Regions from separate parts of the Homo sapiens genome. Here region 2 is linked to region 1. The links come from fine-mapping of genetic effects on gene expression. A gene starts in region 1. The other region holds a variant in brackets. All regions are shown on one strand. Distances are from middle to middle.

What was found.
Region 2: its variant is fine-mapped to the expression of LYSMD4 in whole blood (TOPMed, PIP above 0.99).

What each region holds. Positions count from the first base shown.
Region 1 is chr15:99,729,679-99,739,938 of GRCh38, reverse strand. It overlaps LYSMD4 (LysM domain containing 4), which reads left to right and starts at 6,502. Exons shown (of 3, transcript NM_001284417.2): 1 at 6,502-6,594; 2 at 7,932-8,221; 3 at 10,208-10,260. The coding sequence starts at 7,940. RefSeq lists silencers at 6,173-6,902, 6,943-7,052.
Region 2 is chr15:99,924,280-99,936,800 of GRCh38, reverse strand. No RefSeq gene overlaps it. Among named protein-coding and RNA genes, the nearest start is that of LYSMD4, 200 kb to the right of the region's middle. RefSeq lists a silencer at 8,362-8,421 and an enhancer at 8,143-8,437. The variant G/A (reference allele first, on the strand shown) is at 5,898.

The sequences.
Region 1 (10,260 bases):
CTACTATATAATGCTACAAACATCCCAAATTTACATTCCCACGAGACTGCCCAGGAGTAAGTACACTCCTTTCCCCACGTGCACAGCCAAGTTCGCTATCATCCTTTTAGGTTCGACTTTTTCCAAGTCTGTAGGTGACAATGAATATCTTGTAGTTTTTTGAATTTCCATTTACTTGACTATCTGTAAAGTTAACAGTTTTTTCCTATATGTATTTCTTTAGTGAATTTTTGCATCATTTGGTTATTTTTCTATAAAGTGCTTTTTTATTGAGATCTGTATGCCTTTTATATATTAAGGATATCAATGTATCAAAGATGGCAAACATTTTTACCCCATTTGTCATAAGCCTGTTAAACTTTCAATAATTGTTTTTGCCGTACCAAATGCAATACATTTCCTGTTTTCTTCTTTCTACTACTTTCTCATGAATTCCTGAAGTTGGCAATATCTCTGGAGCTATGAGCTCTCACACTCATAGCCATGTTTCTTCCAAGGGCTTCACTTCTCACAGTCACTTGACAACAAGCAGAAGTCAGGAAGTTTTCTTCTTTCTATTTCATGGAAATGCAAATTCCACACTGGCAATAACCAGTGGATTTTCCTGAGTCATTAGAGAACCCACAACTTAAGGAACCAAATCCAGACTACTAGATACTGCAGAGCAGGGATGGCAAATCAGTTTCCCCTCCCCTGACAATATTGCTTGATTGGTCATGGCTGTCTTGGATACTGACGGCCATCTGGGCCTCTGCAATGAACTGGCAAAGTCTGCTGGGGGGTCCGTGGGGAGCAGGTGCCAGGTACACAGTCCATGGGCAAATTGTCTATTAGTCCGTTCTTACACTGCTATAAAGAGCTACCTTCGACTGGGTAATTTATGAAGAAAAGAGGTATAATTGACTCACAGTTCTGAAGGCTTAACAGGAAGCATGACTGGGAGGCCTCAGGAAACTTACAAACATGGCAGAAGGTGAAGCAAGCACCTTCTTCATATGGCAGCAGGAGAGAGAGAGTGAGGGGAATATTTAAAACATCACACACACATTTAAACCACCAGATCTCATGACAACTCACTCACTATCATGAAAAGAGCATGGGGGAAATCCGCCCCCATGATCCAATCACCTCCTAACAGATCCCTTCCCCAACACTGGGAATGACAATTCAACAAGATATTTTGGTGGGGACACAGAGCCAAACCATATCACTGTCACACAGAGAGGTGTAGGGTGTGTCCAGACACTACGAGGAGGGAAGGAGTGTTTCTAATAATTGTGCTGTGACGATAGGCATGCTCTGGGATTGTTTTGGACAGAAAGAATGTATGGTCACCCCAAGCATAGGGAACAACACAGTGGCAGTGGAAAACCAAAGTCCAGAAGGCTTACAGGACTCAGTCAAGGTCACACAGCCACTGAATGCAGAGCTGGCTTTGGACTCACCTCATCTCCCAACGTGCTAACCTGCTGTGCAGCCTCAGGCAGGTCCCCTCACGTCTCTGGGTCTTAAATTCCTCTCTATAAAATGAGCAGTTGTAGCTTAAGAAATTCTAATGACTTTGATAACACAGTTCTCTGCTCTCCACCCACTGGATTTTTGACACATTTTGTGAAAGCCAGCCACTCAGTGAGCACCTGCTACTTTTCTTCTCTCCCTACCCTTGCTAGGGCTCCAAGGGAGGTCGGGCACAGGCATGAGGTGACACAGCTTTGGCACCTGGGCGGCATGTCTGCTTGTGCAGGTTTAGTCCCAGCTTTCTTGGGGCCACAGTAGTGGAGTCCTTGGTGGACATGACCTTGGCACACTTCAGTAGACAAGTCATGTCACTCTTAACACTTCTCATCTGGCCTCAGGAAACTCAGGCCAGAGATACTATAACTCAGCCAGTCAAGCCAAGGCCTGGGGAGAGAACTTGGGGATGTTTCTGGGGAAAATGTTGACCAGGTGAACAGGCTTCCTGGGTGGGGCTGAGTCAGCAGTGAAAGCAAAAATGGGCTCTGCTCAGAAGTTTTCACAAGATTGGGGCTATGGAGCCACAGTCTGGGGTTTTATCCTGTCTCCTGTACTTACTAGCTATGACATCTTGAGCAAGTAACTTCATCTTTGTGCATAAGCATATAAATTAGGAATTTATTCAGCTGCTAGTGATAGAGATCCTAACAGCATCTTAAACATGAGGACATTTATTTCTCTTTTACACCCCATCCACCATTCTGCTCTGCCATCCTTACTTAGTACATGGATTCCACCTCATGGTCCAAGATGACTGCATGTGCTCTGGCCATCACATCTTTATTCCAGGCAGCAGAGAGGCAGGGAGAATAAAAAAAAGGCACTCACATTTCAGAGCTTTTCCAGATCTCCCCCTTTTAAGGACTTCTTCAGTAGTCCCGCTCACATTTTCTTCTTTGACCTCATTGTCTAGAACTTATTCACATGCGTACAACCCACTGCAAGGAGGGCTGATATGTGGTCTTGGCTTGGCATGCTGATGCCCCCAATAATGTTGGGGTTCTCTTTCTAAAGGAAAAGATGAGAATTGATATTAGGTGGCAAACTTGCAATTTCTCCCCTAGTGAGTTTTTCCAACTGTAAGTTGAGGATTATAATAGTTCCCACCTCACACGGGTGTTGTACTCAGTAAGGACTCAATAAACATTAGCTAAATTATTGTACATCAGGAGAAAGTGAAATGCAAAAGGCAAATAATGTTGGCATTACTATGAACATCGTTTGGACATCACAGACTCCGGGATCCCTAGAACACACTTGGAGAACTGCTGCCTTGACAATCACTTAATTCCTGGGCAGTCCAGCCGGCCAAGTCCTCATATGACCTTGAAAGGACACAGCCATTCTTTTGCCTTTACAAAGTTTATATAATTTTTGCTCACATGCATGACCTTGTTTCTTTGGAAGATCTTGCACCATCTGTAATGACCTTTTCTGTGTATGTCTTTGATTTTCCATCTTCCTTCTGGCAATTGTAAGGCTATGAGGCCTTATCAGCCTTATACAGCCAATCAAAGTTGACCTTATAGCTTTGTCCGCCACTGTGCCCCAGCACACGGAAGGAGTGCCACAGACATAAGCTTGACAGTGCTGAACTCTACCCAAACCTTGTGCTCCTGGAAAACAGTGGGGTTTAAGAAATTCCTCCACCCTTTGTCTTCTGGAAAACACCTACTACAAAGAACTCCCTTCTCCATATGACTTAGGTAAGACCCACAAATGCCACCCTGGTTTACCTATGACAAGGCCAGCCCCAGACCCTCCAAATTCCTTTTATCTCATAAATAATTAGTGAAACTGCTTGACCCCAGTAATCAATTGGAACAAAATGCTTGCTAACCAAACTTTGATTAGGCTTCTCTCTTCCCCTAGCCCACTGAATAAACCTTGACTCCACCACAACCTGAGCCAGCATAAGCTCTTCCTGAGACTTGGCTGACCCCAGGGTAGAACATTCTCTGATCTACTACCAGATCCCACCACCCTTTCATCCCGCTTCCCCATACCGTGCTCTTTCTAGCTTTGTTACTTCGCTGTGAAAGGAGAACTTTCTGTCTAACTCTTGAGATGTTACAGAGCTTATGGTCAGAAGTTCTCCCCATTGCAATAGTCCCTCCCACCACCTTGCAATAATCTTTTGGAATAAACTTTATCCTAAGTCTGGATTTATTTTGTACTGGACACACTGAATGAATGAAACAACCATAACTGATCAGAAAGCAGCAATACTAATCCAGCTTTACAAATTCTGTTGTGACTTTTCTTGCCATTAGTCACACTTTGAAATTCTGACTCCTGGATTTGCCAAACCCACCGGGCCATGGCCAGGTGCCTTGGGCCCGAAGTACAGCTGGTGGCTGAGAGCCAGGCCTCTGGAATAGACACACTAGGATTTGGATTTTGGTGCTCTCAACTCAGGATTTTAATCCTTTGTCGGGATGCATTTATTTTCCCCAGATAATATGCTTTTTAATTTTAGTTTGCCTTCCCGTATCCTGGGTCAGGTCATCAGAACAGCTCTCCTAATGAGCCCACATTGAATGAGCACCTCTAGACGCCGCCACTCAGCTGGGCCTTGGAAGTTGTATGGGGACAGTAGTATTCTGGCAATAAATGACAAGTAAATGAACTAGGAAGTACTATGAAGAAACCGTGTTCTCACAGAGCACTAAGGGAGCACCTACATATACCCGCTGGACAGGGGAGAACTCACTGAGAAGATGACTTACTTTGAGGCCTGAGGCTCAGACAGTCCAGTAATGCAAGCAGCTTGAGAGAAGGAGCCTTGAAGCCTGTATTAGGTTCTCCAGAGAGACAGAACCAATAGGAGATACCTATCTATCTACAGATACAGAGTCAGGTCCTCCAGAGAGACAGAACCGATAGGAGATATCTACCTATCTACAGATACAGAGTCAAGTCCTCCAGAGAGACAGAACTGATAGGAGCTATCTAATCTATCTATCTATCTATCTATCTATCTATCTATCTATCTATCTACCTACCTACCTACCAATAGGAGATATCTGTCTATCTATCTATATATCTATTTCTACCTATAGAGAGAGACACAAAGTGAGTGAGTGAGAGAGAGGAGATTAGACTTGGCTCACACAATTAAGGAGACTGAAAGTCCCGGGACAGGTGGGTCTGCAAGCTGGAGACCCTGGGATGCAGATAATATGGTTCAGTGCAGGTCCAAAAACATCAGAACCAGGGAAGCTGATGATGTCACTCTCATTCCAAGGCCAGAGTCTTGAGAACCCTGGGGGTTAGGGGAGGGTAAGTCCTGGAGTCCAGACCATTTTGGGCTTTGTCCACGAAGATTAACAATTTGACTTTTAGTTTAAGTGGGTGTATTAGTCCGTTTTCATCCTGCTGATAAACACATACCCGAGACTGGGCAAAAGAAAGAGGTTTAATGGACTCACAGTTCCACCTGGCTGGGGAGGCCTCACAATAATGGCTGAAGGTGAAAGGTGCATCTCACATGGCAGCAGATAGAAGAAAAGAACTTGTGCAGGGCAACTTCCCTTTATAAAACCATCAAATCTAGTGAGACTCATTCGCTATCTGGAGAACAGCACAGAAAACACCTGCTCCCATGATTCAATCACCTCCCACCAGGTCCCTCCCACAACAGGTGGAAACTGTGGGAGCTACAATTCAAGATGAGTTTTGGGTGTGGACACAGTCAAATCCTATTAGTGGGAAAAGGTTTGTGAGATCTTGTTTTAATGTTTGCTTTGTTGTTTAATCTGATTGCAAGTGAGGGTTAAAAACATTTTCAACCTGTTGACCATTTGCATTGTTTGCTGAATTATCTGCTCCTGTCTCTCTGAGGTCTCCCTCAGACCTGCTGAGGTCTTAGCATCTTTCCTATTCATATGAAGTCTCTCTCAGCGAAGGATTTTAATCCTTTGTTGTGTTCAGTTTATTTTCCCTAGGTTATCTGCTTTTTAATTTTGGTTTTCCTTTTTAAGTAGAAGCTCTGAACTTTGTGCCTTAGTGTGTGAGGTTTTTGTTTTTGTTTTTTTTTGAGATGGAGTCTCCCTCTGTTGCCCAGGCTGGAGTGCAGTGGCACGATCTCGGCTCACTGCAACCTCCGCCTCCGGGTTCAAGCAATCCTCTGTCTCAGCCTCCTGAGTAGCTGGGATTACAGGCGCCCGCCACCATGCCCGGCTAACTTTTTTATTTTTTTTTATTTTTATTTTTTTAGTAGAGACGGGGTTTCACCATCTTGGCCAGGCTGGTCTCGAACTCCTGACCTCGTGATCCACCAGCCTCGGCCTCCCAAAGTGCTGGGATTACGGGCGTGAGCCACCGCGCCCGGCCAGTGTGTGAGAATTCTTCCACCACTTTTCATCTTAAGAAATCCTCGGCCACCTGACATTTGATAAACACGACTTAAGTTTTCTTGGTCCCTGTTGTCCGCATCCATGTTTTACACTCGTGGATTTCTGTTTTCTTCTCGGGGTGGGGCAATGCCTCCCCTGGTGCGGCCCTCAAAGGCCCAGGAGCGCAGATCCCGCCGCAGAAAGACCCCTCGCCCATCTGCGCCCAGCCCTTCCCCGCAGGAGGGCTCAGGGGACCCCACGCTACTGGAATCCACCCCGAGTCACAGCTACAGATCATTACCCACAAGTGGGGTCAAAGGCCTCTTTACGGGCGAGAAAGCTGCGGCTCAGCAGAAAGCCAAGCACTTTGGGAGGGAGGAGCTGAGGTGCCTTATTACTCCGAACAGACGCGAAAACAAGCCAGGGCCCGCGCGGGTAGACCTGGTAGGCGGGTGGGCGGGGCGAGGGCCACTTCCGGGGTGTGGAACCCTGTCGAGCCCCGCCCCGAGCCCCGCCCCGAGCCCCGCCCCGGGCCCTGTGGTCCCGGGATGAGCTCTCCGCGCAGCCAGGCTCGCTCCAGTGCCCGCCCAGCGCTGACTTCATTGGCTGCCTCCCCAGTCCCGCCCCCAGGGGGGCCCTGCTGATGTTCGTAGCCAATCCGCAGGCGCGGTGGCAGCTGCGGGTCGCGGGTCGCGGGTCGCGAGTCGCCGGTCGCCGGTCGCGGCGGAGCCTGGGCGCTGAGGTACCGGGGCCTGGACGAGGGGGCCGCGGTCTGGCTAGGGAGCCGCGCGGGCTCATGGCGGTACGGCGACCTGGCCTCGCTCGAGGGTTCGCGGGCGGGCCGCCCCTCCCCGGGCTCCTAGGGGGACGCTCCAGCTGGAGGGGCGGTGACCGCGACTGTCGTGGGCTGGCCCCAGGTGGCTAGGGTTGGGGGTCAGAGGTCAGAGGTTCTGCCCTCTGGAATGTTAGGGCCCCGCCCGTGGAGCCGTGGAGCCCTGGGGCCGGGCCGCTCCCCATTTTCCTGTCAGCTCTTGTTGAGGTGCCCCATCTTTTCGCAGAAGGGACTTGGAGGGAAGCGGGCCTGGAGCTGCTGCCGCCGCCCCTGAGCTCGGACGCGAAGGCTGGCCCCGTCCCCGGGCTGCCGCCGTGGTCCTGCAGGTGACCCTCAACCCCCCGAGGACCGCCGGCCGCCTCCCGCCTCCGGGCAGGCTCAGGAGCGCGCGGAGCGGGGTGTGGGCCTGTGACCCTCGAAGGCGTGGGCGGGGAGTAGGGGGTCGAGCTGGGGCCGCAGGCTGTCCCCGTACGGGCTGCTCCCCTGTGGCTCCGAAGCCACCTTTTTCTGAAGTTGTCAGCCCGCGTGTTTGAGATTTCGTTTCTGGAATCTCACGCGAACAATCTGGAGAGAGGAACAGGGGTCTTGCGGCTTTGGCTGTTGACTCAAGGGGAAAATAAAAACCAGACAATGGGGATGTAATGAATGCAAAGTGACCCGTGAGCAAACTGGACGCTTTTCTCCGGCTGACAGGCATGAGTTCTCCCCGTAGCTTGCCCCACATACTGTGAGTTAAACTGTGTCAAAGTAAGAGCAGTTTAGCCCCACAGTTCTGAGCAAGAGTCCTTAGCGCTGACCTTCTTAGTGAAGATACTTTGCAATGTGTAAAATATTGAATACAAAATTATTGTGCAAAGCTTCTGAGTTGAAGATTCTGAGTGCGCGGAGGCTGGCGGCAGCCCTTACTTGCCATTGCAAGGATCTCAACTTACTACTCTGAGAGCAAAAGTAGTTGTTTCTTTACAGATGTGGGTTTAGGGGAGACAGCTATGGATGAGGAACAGGGGCGGGGTTCGTTTTCTGCACAAAACGTATGCGATTAGAAAAAACAAAGGGTTTTTATTCTGCCTATCTTCTTCCATCTCAGCCAGCATAAGCACATTCTTTTTTTTCTGTTGATGATGTATGCTGAGTATTTGCAGCGATTAGGAAAAGGAATACTCTCTAACAAGACACTTCTCTTTAAACGAGGCGGTGGAGGGATGATTATGTCTTCTGTGGAATTAACCCTCCGGCTTGATTTTCAGTGAAGAAAATGAGGCACGAGGAATTGTTAACCAAGACCTTCCAAGGCCCAGCTGTTGTGTGTGGGACTCCGACCAGCCACGTATACATGTTTAAGAATGGCAGTGGGGACTCGGGGGACTCTTCTGAAGAAGAGTCTCACCGTGTGGTTTTGCGGCCCCGGGGCAAGGAGCGCCACAAGAGCGGTGTCCACCAGCCTCCCCAGGCGGGAGCAGGTGACGTGGTGCTGCTGCAGCGGGAGCTGGCCCAGGAGGACAGCCTCAACAAGCTGGCGCTGCAGTATGGCTGCAAAGTAAGACACCCCTCAGGGGCCCTGCCCCGCTCCGTTTCAAGGAACACGGGGAACTCACTGCAGGGTGGGTGCCCTTGCCGCCCTTCTTAACCCTGCCAGGCCGTCAGGAGAGGCCTGCTGTAGCAGCCAAGGACTCCCCTATTTAGCCAGAATTGGAATGCAGGTGGGAGTACCTTTAGTTCCCAACCCTGGCCCCCAAAGAGGGAGGGTTAGCGCATTTCTTTCTCTGCAGGGAACTTCTCCTTTTCCTGTTTTCTCCACACTGAAATTCTGAAACCTTTTTTCTTCTTTCGAGCACATTTTATTTTAGACCTAATGGGGCTGGAGATACCAGGCAGAATTTAATTCCGGATTTCTATGGTATGCTTGCTTTTCTCGCTGCTCTTATTTTTCTGAACCTTTCTTGGTGGTAGCTTACTTGACTTTTGGTAAAGTTTTACCTTCTCTCGTTTAGAACTGCATGGTCTTTTGTATGCTGTGTATCTATATAACCCTGTTTTTCTCTAATTATGTTTTCAGCATTCAGAGTGATTAACAATGGCAAAGTAAGTAGGAAAGTATTTCTAGAATTGCTGCATTTTCTCCTAGATTGCAACTGTTTCACTTTGCTAACACTGTGCTACAGATTTGTATGGCCTTCTCTAGGGGTATATAAGCTACTTAATTTAAGAAATCTCTTTCTCCTACAAGTGTCTTATCTAACAAGGTCCAAATGTCTGAAACATGTTGTGTGGGGTGTTGCGGTCTTTCAGGGAAATAAACAGGTTGGTCTCCGGGGACACATAGTGGTCTTTAAATTGTACTGACAATTATATTTGGCTCCGATAAGCAGCTTCTGCAGGCATACTGTGTGGCTTACAGAACATGGGCTGAAAAATGAAGCCTGTCCTACAAAGACCGGAATAGATGGAGTAGGCTTCTTGGTATGGTGATGTCTAAATCCGTAAAGAATATATAAAGCCTTTGATAAGTGATCAGTTTTCCTATTTGAAGTAAATAAATTTGCTCTTAATTTATTGAAGGCAGAGACAGAAAGATCTCAAGGGTCTCATGCATTAGATTCAGGACATAGTGAATTAAAAATGTCCCCTACCCCAAATCAGTTACAATAACAGCAGTTGCTGAATAATAATGGAAATGATTGATTTGATTGAGATCTGTTGGCTGTATTCACTTTCTAGTTTAAGTGGACTTAAGTGTTAAAAGTTTGGAGTTCATCTCTGATGCTTTTGGAAAGTTTTCAAACATTAGTTTGAGGGAGGGGTTACCCTTTGACTTACATTCTCCCTGCTTCTTAAATCTTCGTGTTTGATTATGAGAGGAGTTTGTCATGAACTTTGTTACTTGATAAAACTCACAGCATTATTCCTTTTTCCTGACAGTTAAGTACAGTAACTGTAAGTCACTTTTATTTAATAAGTTTACATGCCCCACAGTGTTTCTGGGAAAGAAAATGCCGAGGGCATATCTGTCAACTTTATTACAGGTAAACTGGATTTTGAGTGTGTCTGCAGAGCTGGCTGAGGCTGTGTGTTTGGTGAATGCTAACATCTGGCAGCCACTGAGTTCTGGCATGAGGGGGAAGGCAGGCAGATGGGGGCACTATTGCCTCAAAAGTGAAAGGTGGAAAAGGCTGCAACATTCCTTTCAGTGCCATGGTGGTTTCGCCCAAAGCGATTTGTTGCAGTCACACTTTAAACAGTTTAAGAAAGATCTGTTTTTCAAAACTGATCTTAAATTGTTCAAACCTGTAAATCTTTAGGAATATCTGATTACTAAACTATATATTGAGGTTGAGTGAAAGCCAAAAAAACAAAATTTCAGCCTAAACTAACTTTGTGTACAGCTGCAGTTTTCCAGTCTTCATCAGATTCGTCAGTGAAGTGGGCTTGAATCATCACCCAGAAAGATTAAGAGCCACTTTTTGGAAAGTTATTTTTAAGGAGCTCCGCATATTTTATGATGTTTATCTTCGTGCCTTCCTAGGTTGCAGATATCAAGAAAGTCAACAACTTCATCAGAGAACAAGACTTATATGC
Region 2 (12,521 bases), 200 kb before region 1:
TAAAACTCCTTGAAAATACAGGTACCTTTTCATGACCTTGGATTAAATAATGGTTTATTGGCTATTATACCAGAAGCACAAGCAACCAAAGAAAAAATTAATCTATTGGACTTCATAAAACTTGAAAACTTTTCACTTCAAAAGATACTTTTCTCCCATTTTAACTTTCTTGATAGTATTTGCAAGACATATTTCTGATAAGGTTCTAACATCAAAAACATCTAAAGAACGCTCACAACAATAAAAAGACAACCACATTTAAAAAATGGGTAAAGGATTTAAATAGAATTTCTTCAATGAAGATTTTAAAATGACAAGTAGAGGAAATGCTAATCATTAGTCACCAGGGAAAAACAAATCAAAACTACAATAACATACCACTTCACACACACTAGGATGCTTATAATAATGACAGAACAAGGCCGGGCATGGTGGCTCGTGCCTGTAATCCTAGCACTTTGGGAGGCCGAGGCCGGTGGATCACATGAGATCAGGAGTTCAAGACCAGCCTGACCAACATGGTGAAACTCCATCTCTACAAAAAACAAAACAAAACAAAACAAAAAATTAGCCAGGTGGGGTGGTGTGCACCTGTAATCCCAGCTACTCGGGAGAATGAGGCAATTGCTTGAACCCAGGAGGCAGAGGTTGTAGTGAGCCGAGATTGCGCCATTGCACTCCAGCCTGTGTGACAGACTGAGACCTTGTCTCAAAATAATAATGAGAGAAAGAAAGAAAAACATTTTAAGGTTCATTCACATGATAAGAGTGAAAGAAACCAGTCACAAAGACCATATGTTTTATGCTTCCATTTATATGAAATATACAGAACAGGCAAATCTATAGAGACAGAAAGAAGATTAGTTGTTGCCTAGTAGTAGGGTATAGAATTGGGTGCTAATAAGGATGGAGTTTCCTTTTAGGGGTGACTAAAATGTTATAAAATTGACTGGTAATGGTGGTATAAATTTGAATATGCCAAAAACCACTGAATTGTACACTCTGAATGGGTCAATAGTATGGTATGTAAATTATATTTCAATAAAGCTGTTAAGAAATAAAATAAATTTAGTGGCACATGCCTACAGTCCTAGCTACTTAAGAGGCTGAGGCAAAAGGATTGCTTGAGCCCAGGAATTCCAGGCTGCAGTGATCCATGATCACATCCATGAATAGCTACTGCAACCCAGCCTTGGGAACATAGCAAGACCCTGTCTCAAATAAATAAATAAATAAAATTGGCATAATTTTTTAAGAAGAGCTGTGGTTCCTCAAAATAGCTACTTTGGAAAGCAGTGTACCTAGCATATTAGTAAGGATATAACAGGCTTTGCTGCAGGAACAAATAAACCCACATCTCAGTGACTCATATCACACCCAGTGCTGGCTGACTAGCTCTCCTGGGCAATTTCTCTGAGTGGTGACTTTGGGATCCAAGCTTCATCTTGTGACATTGCCATGTAAATATATACCCACTGAGGTCACTGTGGAAAGGCAAGAGAGAATGGATGATGGTTCAAGGGAGGTTATAGCTGGCTTGAAAGTTGTACACCTTACTTCCTCCTGCACCACAATGGCCAAACTATGGTCATATAGCTCCAATTTAATTACAAGTCATGCTGGAAAAGTCTTCCAATGTGCCCAGGGAGAGGAAAGTGAAATATGATTTGGTGAGCCCATGGCATTGTCTCTGTCCCAAATCACCCATGAAGGAAGGTCGAGGGGAGAGAGAAAGAAAAAGAAAAAAGAAACCAGCTACTGCTCAAACTTGTAGAGATCCTCTTTGGCAAATATTTTCATATGCAGTTGAAAAGAACAAATCTTCCTAACTCATAATTTTGTTTTTTGGGCTATTGACACCTTCAGGACTCACTCATTAGGTCCACTGCCTGCCAGTTACATTCCCTGCACTCCCCACACTCTTGGCGTATCTCAGTCACTCCTCATATTGCAGGTTATCTGTTTTATGTCTGTATCTAGGACCCATTGTACTCATTTCTTTACCCCAACTGGTAGCAAAAGCCCAGCACATACTAGATGGCCAAGACAAGTTTTGGGACCACGACATATGTAACCTAGTTGAGAAACACTAGGCAAACACCTCAAGAGCAAGCACAGGGTCTTATTCTGGCAACTTTGCAGTGTTCAGCACACCATAGGGATCATTTGACTGATTCTTCTCTGGCCCAACCAAAGCTAAGCAGCTGCCAAGCAGGTATGGTCATTCATCCATCCATCATTTGAGGATCAACTTTCTGCCAGGCACTGAGCTAGGTGCTGTAGATTTTAGCTTGGCCATCTCTAAATCGGAGAGCTAATGAAGATGCTGAGCCTTCACCACTCAAAGAGATCCTCTGGTGTCATTTGGGAAGAGGGAGGTTGCCCTGGAGCAGTCACCACGTCTCAGAGTCTGTTCTTAGAAGGCAAAGGGGAAGAGTTCTGCTCTAGACCTAGCCAACAGTTGGTGCTGTTGGTGTGGATGGGAGCAGAGGGAGGGGCTGGCCCTGTGATCACAGTTTTGCCCATGCTTTAGTGATGAATAGTGCGTATCCCTTCTCTGCAGCTGACATTCACTTCTTTAGGGCTTTAACTGCTCCTTTTCCTTCAGGGGCAGAGTCAACCAGTTGCTCAGTTCATGGTGTGCTAGCACAATTTCTCCATGTGAGGTCCTGCTCCTACTGTGCTTTACTTTATTCCTCTTTATCCCAATTCTCCACTCCCACCTTTGCACATTCATCCCTACTGTTGCATTTAATGTTTATCTTTCTTTTTCTCCGCACACTTGAGAAACCTGACAAGTTGATTGATAGGTATGTATTTTCAGGTTCCTACAAATGATGCAGTGTTAGAGATTTTGTCCTGCTTCTTACTTTTCTCACTCACGCTATTTTTAAGGCTGTAGCCACAGTGATGGGTGTCCACCCTGTTTGTGGCTGTGGGTCATCCATGTGACAATCTCATTTTACTCACCCATTCCCCAGTGATGGATGCCAGCCTCTAACTCCACTGTCCCCAAACAATACTGTGGTAAATCACTTCTCGGTCGCTTTGTGTGCAAGTCTTTGGGACATATGCCCAGGAACAAAATGTCTAGCACTTGAATGATACAGGTATCAATGTCACTAAGCAGAGCGAGATCCCCCTCTACAATGGCTGTACTCAGCTACCTGTCAGCCAACCACGTATGGAATATCTCAACCTTCACATCCCTGTGGCTGGCGCAGGCTCAGAGAGAGGCCAGTGTAGCTCAAGGTCTAGAGTTATCAAGGAAAAGCCATCGTTCTGAGGTCCATCTCCTGAAAGGCGGCCTCTCCTGAGTGTCATCCTGTCTCATCTTTTCCTCACCCCGGGTCCTCCCTGGTGGATATGGTTCTCCTCCTCATCCCCCAAACTTCTCATGCCCCAGCATGGGCCACCCCACCACAGACTTGGCATCTGGGGTGGGTGGACAGGAAGGGGGGTGGACTGGCCTACCCAAGGGGCAGAGCATTGGCCTTGGCAATTTGGTGCAGGAAGACAGGATCCAGGAGGGAGATGAGCTCTCACCCCGGATACGCGTTCAGAAGCAGCATTCAAGTTCCCCCTCCCAGTTTTTCATCCGATGCTCACCACGCCCCCTGGGTAACCGGGATGTGTAAAGTTGAAGAACCCCCACTCCCAAGTGAGGTGATTTGCCTCAAGGAGAGGCTGAGTTGAGGCCAGAACCTCCTTGGCTTTTTGGACATTCAGGACCCAGTGGTACAGGGGTGGGGGTGGGCCGCTTGCTCCCCAGAGAAGAGAGGGAGGAATAGAGAAAGGGGAAGAGGAGCCAGGCCAGCAACTGCAGATAAACAAGGATATTCCCAGGGCTCAGCCCCAGGGCACTTGAAAGCCAGCAGCTCAGGCAGAGGCTGTGATGGGTCCCCCAGCAGAGCTTCAGTGAAACACCACGGTGTCACCAGTCATTTGTCTCCCTGGCACAGGGCCCACTCATCTACTCTTGGCTTGGAATGAACTGGTTCCCCAGAGGAGAGGCTATCTGGCTAATTGTGCACAAACACATAGAACTTGCTGCAGTCAAGACCTGCGTGCCGACCCCACCACGCCGGCCAGTCCAGGGTCATGTGGCCGCCTCTTCACCTCCAGCAAATGAAGCTGGTACAGCTGTTGGCAGAGCCAGAAGGGGTACTTTCTAGGCACATACCTGCCCCTAGGATGGGAGGCCTTTGTATACATTTTTATTGTAGATGGGGTCTGAGACAATTTTTCTGTCCCTACTCTGGTGTCCACGGACTGTCACACCACCACTTCTGCTTTCAGGCAGAAAACCACCTCCCAGCAGGCTCCCACTGAGGACTCTCGCCTGACCTGGAAACCCCTGCTCCTCTCTCTGCTGCCATCTGCCTCAGGGAGAGTTGGGCTGGAGGAGGGAGTGGAGCAGTGGGGACAGGAAGTCCCTCGCTAGACTCAGCAAAACAGGGACCCTTGGCTTGGGTGGGCAGCTTTCTGCAGCCCCCTTTGTTTCCACCTGGAAACGTTGATTTCCCCAGTTGGACACTCAGAATCTCAAATGACATCAAGGCCACAAACAAATCTCTCCTCCTCTGCAGGGCATTCTTTTCACATGCCCTCAGAGCATGACTGAGCTTGGAGGAATTCTGAGCCATGGTTGGTTTGCTGCAAATGGGCATCGTCAGGTGTTCCTGTAGCCAGGGAAACAGGAAATGAGGACAGAGGAGAGGGGATGCCAGTAGAGCTTTGAGTCCTCGGGTTCCAAGAGGGGAGAAGATGGATGTGGCATGCGTGTCTAGGGCCCAGGCTGAAGGCCCTGAACGGCAGAGGAGACCGGGGCTACGGGGTCACGTCATGGAGCAGAAGGCCTGTGCACCAGAACGCACCATGAGGCCACCATCTGGGGGTCCACAGGGGCAGCTGAACCTCATCATGCCTAGGGTTTCTGGTCACCTCCTACCTATGCAGAGCTGTGGACAATAAGCTGGACCAGCAGTTACCACCCGAAAAGCAAGAGGAGAGCTCACCACAGTCATGCCTTGCCAGCCCCTCTTCCTGACCCCAACATTAGAACAGCAAGTGCCAAGAAGCAGGAGAGTCATGTGCAACTGCCCCTACCCCACTCTCCATCTATGGAAACACTAGGTTTAGCCTGCACTAGGTGGAGAAGGGAAGAGAGATTGACGTTTCAAAATGAGCTATCAGGGGACTTCTATTTACAGCAATATGAGAAACTAGGTAACCTGAAAGGCAACACCCACCGCAATATGCTCAGAATTGCTTGGTGCAATAGAACAGACTCTAAATGCAGAGTTCAACAGAAAGTAAAGGCCAAAAGATGAACTGGGAACCAACAATTAGGTATACAACTTCATGATCTCCCCACCCACCAGGGCTGGCATCCTCTCACTAACTCAGGGGCTTGGATTGTTTTGTTTTGCTTTTCGAGACAGAGTCTCACTCTGCCACCCAGGTTGGAGTGCAGTGGCACAATCTCAGCTCACTGCAACCTCCACCTCCCGGGTTCAAGTGATTCTCATGCTTCAGCCTCCCGAGTAGCTGGGATTACAGATGTGCATCACTATGCCTGGCTAGTTTTTATATTTATTTTTAGTAGAAATGGGGTTTTGCCATGTTGACCAGGCTGGTCTTGAACTCCTGGCCTCATGTGATCCACCCAACTTGGCCTCCCAAAGTGCCAGGATTACAGGCGTGTGCCACCATCCCTGGCCTAGGGACTTGGGTTTTAATGCTGTGAGGAATTGGAGAGGAAGCCTTGGACCTGCCCCACAACACTCATAAATGAGGGGTCCTTCAAGGGCAGGATGCACTCTCAGTAATCATCATCTAGAGAAAGTTCCCCCACTGGCAGTTATGTCAGGGATATTAGACCTGGCCTGGGCTCT[G/A]AGTAGGGAAAATGATTCTCCTATCAATTTGTCATCACAGGCCCATACTCATGTGATGGGATTAGGCTGTATATGACATGCATGGGCCAGAAAATCCCCAGGTCAAAACATTGGTATGCAAAGCAGTCCTGGGCTGGTGATAACGCCAAGCACCTGGCTGAAGCAAACCCAAAAGCACTCTGGAGGCACCCACTCTCATGTAAGGTACAGAAGATTCCAATAGATGAAGTCCCCATTAAGACCAGCTCACAATCCCAAATTACAAAACACTGGCAACTCCAAGTCAATAAACTTCAGGGATGGAAAGCCAGTAGAATGATCAAAACAGAGCCTACAAGATAAATTGGCTTAAAATTACTAAAGACCTAAAATGAGAAATAAAAACAGAAAAAAAGAATCAAGATACATGAAAAAATAGGTAAATTTTAAAAAGTATTTCCAGAAAGTAAAATTTTAAAAATATAATTACTGAAATAATAGAAATACCTCTGCAGATGGGTTACCGCTGATTCTCAAAGTTTATCACACCTGAGGATCCCCTGGAGGGCTTCTTAAACACAGACTGCAGGGCCACCTCCAGAGTTTCTGGGGCAGGGCCTGAGAATTTGCATTTATAAGAAGTACCCAGGTGAAGCTGCACTGATGATCTGGGGACAACGGGTTAGCTGATTAACTCTGGCCAAAGACAAAATTCTGACTGACCAAAAGTAGTTGACAAGTTAGTGAATAAAGTTGGGTTATTTTAATAGGTCTTCTATCCAGGGGAAAGGAGTTTCAATCAGCACACAGTTGAAAGCAGTAACTGAGAAAAATAAAACCATGTCCACGTGCATGTTTCAAATACACTGTCAGGATTTTCAATAGTCTAAGTAGTCTGTATCTTGTCCAAGGTTACAAGAGACAAAGAACATTATATATTGAGAAGAGATTCAATACAGCAAGAATAAGTAGTTATAAACATTTAGCACTTAACAGAATATGCAAAGCAGAAAGGGAGCGAATTGGAGGGAAAAGTAGTTCTACAATAATCGTCGGAGACCTCAGTCCCCCACTTTCAATAATGGAAAGAACAACCAGACAGAAGATAAGAAAGGAAATGAGAGGACTTGAACAACACAGCAAGCCAAGTGGACCTAACACACACCACCAGGCCCCCAGTGCATTTCAGCTGAGGCCTCTGGACACGAGGCCCACGACAGGTGTCTTAGTGGGCCCACGACTGCTGTGACAAATTACCACAAACTTGCTGGCTTCCAACAACACACGTTTATGATCTTACAGTCCTGGAGGTCGAAAGAGTAAAAAGAGGTCTCACTGAGCTGAAATGAAGCTGCTGGCAGGGCTGCGTTTCTTTCCGGAGGTTCGTTGGGAGAACCTAGTCCCTTACCTTTTCCAGCTGCTAGGCAGAGGCCGCCCTGTTCCGTGGCCCGTCCTCCATCCCCAAAGCCAGAAAAACCGGGCTGAGACCTCCTGGTGCTGTCGGCCTTCTCTGTTCTCTGTTCTCTCTCTTTCTTTCTCTCGCCTCTCTTCCTTATAAGGACAGGTGATTGCATTGGGCCCACCTGGGTGACCCAGGCTAATCTCCTTACCCATTAAGCTCCCCATCCTCAGCCTTTTCTTCTGTCAGATGGAGAATATAATCCCCTAGTTTTAGGGAATTTTGAGGAATAAATCGGATTACTAAACTGTGAGTTCCTTGAGTCAATAAAGATTAACTGAGCACTTACTGTGTGTAAGGCAACTTTCCTAAGTGCTAGGGATACGACAGTGAACAAAACACACAAAAATGCGTGTTTCTGTCTGTGTGTGCAATTAATCTACCTTAATTCCATCCGCAACTGTAATTCCCTTTTGCCATGTAAGGGGACAAATTCACAGGCTCTGGGGAGTAGGATGTGGACACCCTTGGGGCGTTTATTCTGCCTTCCGCAGTGGAGGACTGCAGACGCTGTGGGCGAAATGTTTGGAGCTGGTGCCATTAAAACCCTCTGCAGTTCCCGCTCAAGGTGCAACTCTCAAGTACTGGCACCTGGGTTTGCGGCCACGTGAGGCTCTGAGCAGCATGGGCCTTGGGGACACTGAAGATATCAGAGGCCCTAGAGGTATGTGTGGCTTCCCAGGTTAAAGTTGGCACGGAGAGAGAAGAGCGTGGCAAGTCAGGCAAACCCGGTGAACTCCCTTTGTCAGCCTTCCTTCCGTCTGCCACAAGGAAGGCCTGTACCAGAACCCAGGGCCTTCTGGGCTGAGAGGCCGCAGCCTGCATTGGAAGGCCACTGAGTCACGGACGTGGGAAGATGACCATCGGTGTCCGAGACGCGAGTATAAAGCCAGGCGCTGCCACTCACCAAGCTGCGCGATCTCGGGCGAGCAGCGCTTCGCCAGGCTCGGCCCACGGCGACGCCACAGTGCCACCTGCCGGCCGGACGCCCTCGCTCGCGCACCCCGCCCTCCTCACTCGCGCACCCCGCCCTCCTCACTCGCGCACCCCGCCCTCCTCACTCGCGCACCCCGCCCTCCTCACTCGCGCACTCCCCCGCCCTCCTCACTCGCGCACTCCCCCGCCCTCCTCACTCGCGCACTCCCCCGCCCTCCTCACTCGCGCACCCCGCCCTCCTCACTCGCGCACCCCGCCCTCCTCACTCGCGCACCCCGCCCTCCTCACTCGCGCACCCCGCCCTCCTCACTCGCGCACTCCCCCGCCCTCCTCACTCGCGCACTCCCCCGCCCTCCTCACTCGCGCACTCCCCCGCCCTCCTCACTCGCGCACTCCCCCGCCCTCCTCACTCGCGCACCCCTCCCTCCTCACTCGCGCACTCCCCCGCCCTCCTCACTCGCGCACTCCCCCGCCCTCCTCACTCGCGCACTCCCCCGCCCTCCTCACTCGCGCACTCCCCCGCCCTCCTCACTCGCGCACCCCGCCCTCCTCACTCGCGCACTCCCCCGCCCTCCTCACTCGCGCACCCCGCCCTCCTCTCTCGCGCACCCCGCCCTCCTCACTCGCGCACTCCCCCGCCCTCCTCACTCGCGCACCCCGCCCTCCTCTCTCGCGCACCCCGCCCTCCTCACTCGCGCACCCCGCCCTCCTCACTCGCGCACTCCCCCGCCCTCCTCACTCGCGCACCCCTCCCTCCTCACTCGCGCACTCCCCCGCCCTCCTCACTCGCGCACTCCCCCGCCCTCCTCACTCGCGCACTCCCCCGCCCTCCTCACTCGCGCACTCCCCCGCCCTCCTCACTCGCGCACCCCGCCCTCCTCACTCGCGCACCCCGCCCTCCTCACTCGCGCACTCCCCCGCCCTCCTCACTCGCGCACCCCGCCCTCCTCACTCGCGCACTCCCCCGCCCTCCTCACTCGCGCACCCCGCCCTCCTCTCTCGCGCACCCCGCCCTCCTCACTCGCGCACTCCCCCGCCCTCCTCACTCGCGCACCCCGCCCTCCTCTCTCGCGCACCCCGCCCTCCTCACTCGCGCACTCCCCCGCCCTCCTCACTCGCGCACTCCCCCGCCCTCCTCACTCGCGCACCCCGCCCTCCTCACTCGCGCACTCCCCCGCCCTCCTCACTCGCGCACTCCCCCGCCCTCCTCACTCGCGCACCCCGCCCTCCTCACTCGCGCACTCCCCCGCCCTCCTCACTCGCGCACTCCCCCGCCCTCCTCACTCGCGCACCCCGCCCTCCTCACTCGCGCACTCCCCCGCCCTCCTCACTCGCGCACCCCGCCCTCCTCTCTCGCGCACCCCGCCCTCCTCACTCGCGCACTCCCCCGCCCTCCTCACTCGCGCACTCCCCCGCCCTCCTCACTCGCGCACCCCTCCCTCCTCACTCGCGCACTCCCCCGCCCTCCTCACTCGCGCACTCCCCCGCCCTCCTCACTCGCGCACTCCCCCGCCCTCCTCACTCGCGCACTCCCCCGCCCTCCTCACTCGCGCACCCCGCCCTCCTCACTCGCGCACTCCCCCGCCCTCCTCACTCGCGCACCCCGCCCTCCTCTCTCGCGCACTCCCCCGCCCTCCTCACTCGCGCACCCCTCCCTCCTCACTCGCGCACTCCCCCGCCCTCCTCACTCGCGCACTCCCCCGCCCTCCTCACTCGCGCACTCCCCCGCCCTCCTCACTCGCGCACTCCCCCGCCCTCCTCACTCGCGCACTCCCCCGCCCTCCTCACTCGCGCACTCCCCCGCCCTCCTCACTCGCGCACCCCTCCCTCCTCACTCGCGCACCCCGCCCTCCTCACTCGCGCACTCCCCCGCCCTCCTCACTCGCGCACTCCCCCGCCCTCCTCACTCGCGCACCCCGCCCTCCTCACTCGCGCACCCCGCCCTCCTCACTCGCGCACCCCGCCCTCCTCACTCGCGCACCCCGCCCTCCTCACTCGCGCACTCCCCCGCCCTCCTCACTCGCGCACCCCGCCCTCCTCACTCGCGCACCCCGCCCTCCTCACTCGCGCACCCCGCCCTCCTCTCTCGCGCACCCCGCCCTCCTCACTCGCGCACCCCGCCCGGCAGTGCGGCCCGCACCCGCCCCCTCCCGAGCACCCTGGCGCGCACTTAGCCAGTACCTGCGCGTGCACCTCGGCGTTCAACGCGGCCTTTGCGGCGGCTCTCCCCTTGGACCTGAGGCTTCCCGCTTCGTTCTAGAGTGAAGGCTGGAAGAGCCCAGACAGGAAGGTGTCAGCTCTGTCCCACACCCAGGTGGCCTGTGCTGTCCCTTAAGTACAGCAGCAACAACGTCACCTGGGGAGGAAAGCTTCATGGAGCTCACCAGATTTGCAGGGGTGAAAGATGGAGGGAGGAGGGGAGTTGGATTCCTATACTAGTTTTTATCTGGATAACTTCTGAGCCAAGCACAGCTTTGTGAGCCTCTAGAGACCCCCTAACCTACTTGCATCAACTGGACATAAAGAGGGGAGCCCAATAGCAACTGCATCCATTCTAAAACCAAAAGCTACTGTTATTCGCCAGGCATGGTAGTAAGTGTCCTATGAGTGTTAATTCATCCATCAAACATTCTTTGAGCTTCCCCTCTGAGCCAGATCGTGTCTAGGTGCCTGGGATGCAGAGGTAGCGAACGTGCCCACACAGGCATACACACGCATTCCTATCCCCTCTACTTCGTCGGCGCTGTTGTTTGACATAGGAATTACTACCACCTAAAACACTATATATTTTACTTTATTTTTCTTATATTATTGTCTGCTACCACACATGTATGCCTGTGGACATCCACACCAACCCCCACACACACACAGACACATTTTTTGTGTGTTTTGTTCACTTTTGTATCCCTAGCACTTAGGAAAGTTGCCTTACACACAGTAAGTGCTCACTCTTTATCAGCTCAAGGAACTCACGATTTGGTAATCTGATGTATTCCTCAAAATTCCCTAAAACTAGGGGATTATATTGTTCATTTGACAGAAGAAAAGGCTGAGGATGGGGAGTGGCCTGCATGGACTGATTCAACTCTTAGCAGTGGAGATGGGAGGCAGACCCAGGTCTGCTGATCCTAAATCCTGTCCTCTGAGTGTCCCCCATAAGCTAATTACTGGAGAAAGCAGAAAGAAAAGAAACCACTATTATCAGCATTGCTTTTCATTTTATTAATCTGAAGAGTGAACACAGTGAAAGCAGGCAGCTACATGTTAGCTGTAGACTGTAGACCACATCTGTTCAAGAATCCCTCCGAGATCATTACATATAAAAATGGCAAATAAAATAATTTTAGCTTTATTTATTTATTTAAAGTTCTACTGAGATAGCAATAAAATAAGGAAAACAATGAGAGGGCAGAAATTCCATTGGAATCAAAATCCTGTATGAGTGAGCTGAATTTTGTCCTGAAGGCTTCTGCTGGTTTCCAGTCGCCTAGAACCACAGTTACACTGAACTATGCTGGGTACAAATGACCAAAGTAAGAGGGGAGCTGGGCTGGAGGAAGAGTTCTGACCAGAGACCCCTGCATAAAGTCAGAAATCCCAGAACTCAATACCTTCAGTGGGTGAGCACAGAAGCAAAGAAATAAAACATTCCCCTAACACATTCCTAACCATCTGTCCCTATTTGACTAGGAAGAGGGCAAGAATCTACACTTTTTGTGAAAATTGAAGCCCCCTCGCAAATAGAAAGTTTTGGGTTTGGTGTTTTTTGTTTGTTTTTTGAGATGGAGTCTCACTGTGTCACCCAGGCTGGAGTGCAGTGGCGTGATCTCGGCTCACTGCAAGCTCTGCCTCCCGGGTTCACACCATTCTCCTGCCTCAGCCTCCCGAGTAGCTGGGACTACAGACGCCCGCCACCATGCCCGGCTAATTTTTTTGTATTTTTAGTAGAGACGGGGTTTCACCATGTTAGCCAGGATGGTCTCAGTCTCCTGACCTCGTGATCTCCCCGCCTCAGCCTCCCAAAGTGCTGGGATTATAGGTGTAAGCCACCGTGCCCGGCCTGGGTTTGTTTGTTTTCTGAGACGGAGTCTCGCTCTGTCACCCAGGCTAGAGCGCATTGGCTCACTGCAACCTCCACCTCCCAGGTTCAAGCAATTCTCCTGCCTCAGTCTCCCAAGTAGCTGGAATTACTGCCACCCACCAACATGCCCGGCTAAGTTTTGTATTTTTAGTAGAGATGGGGTTTCACC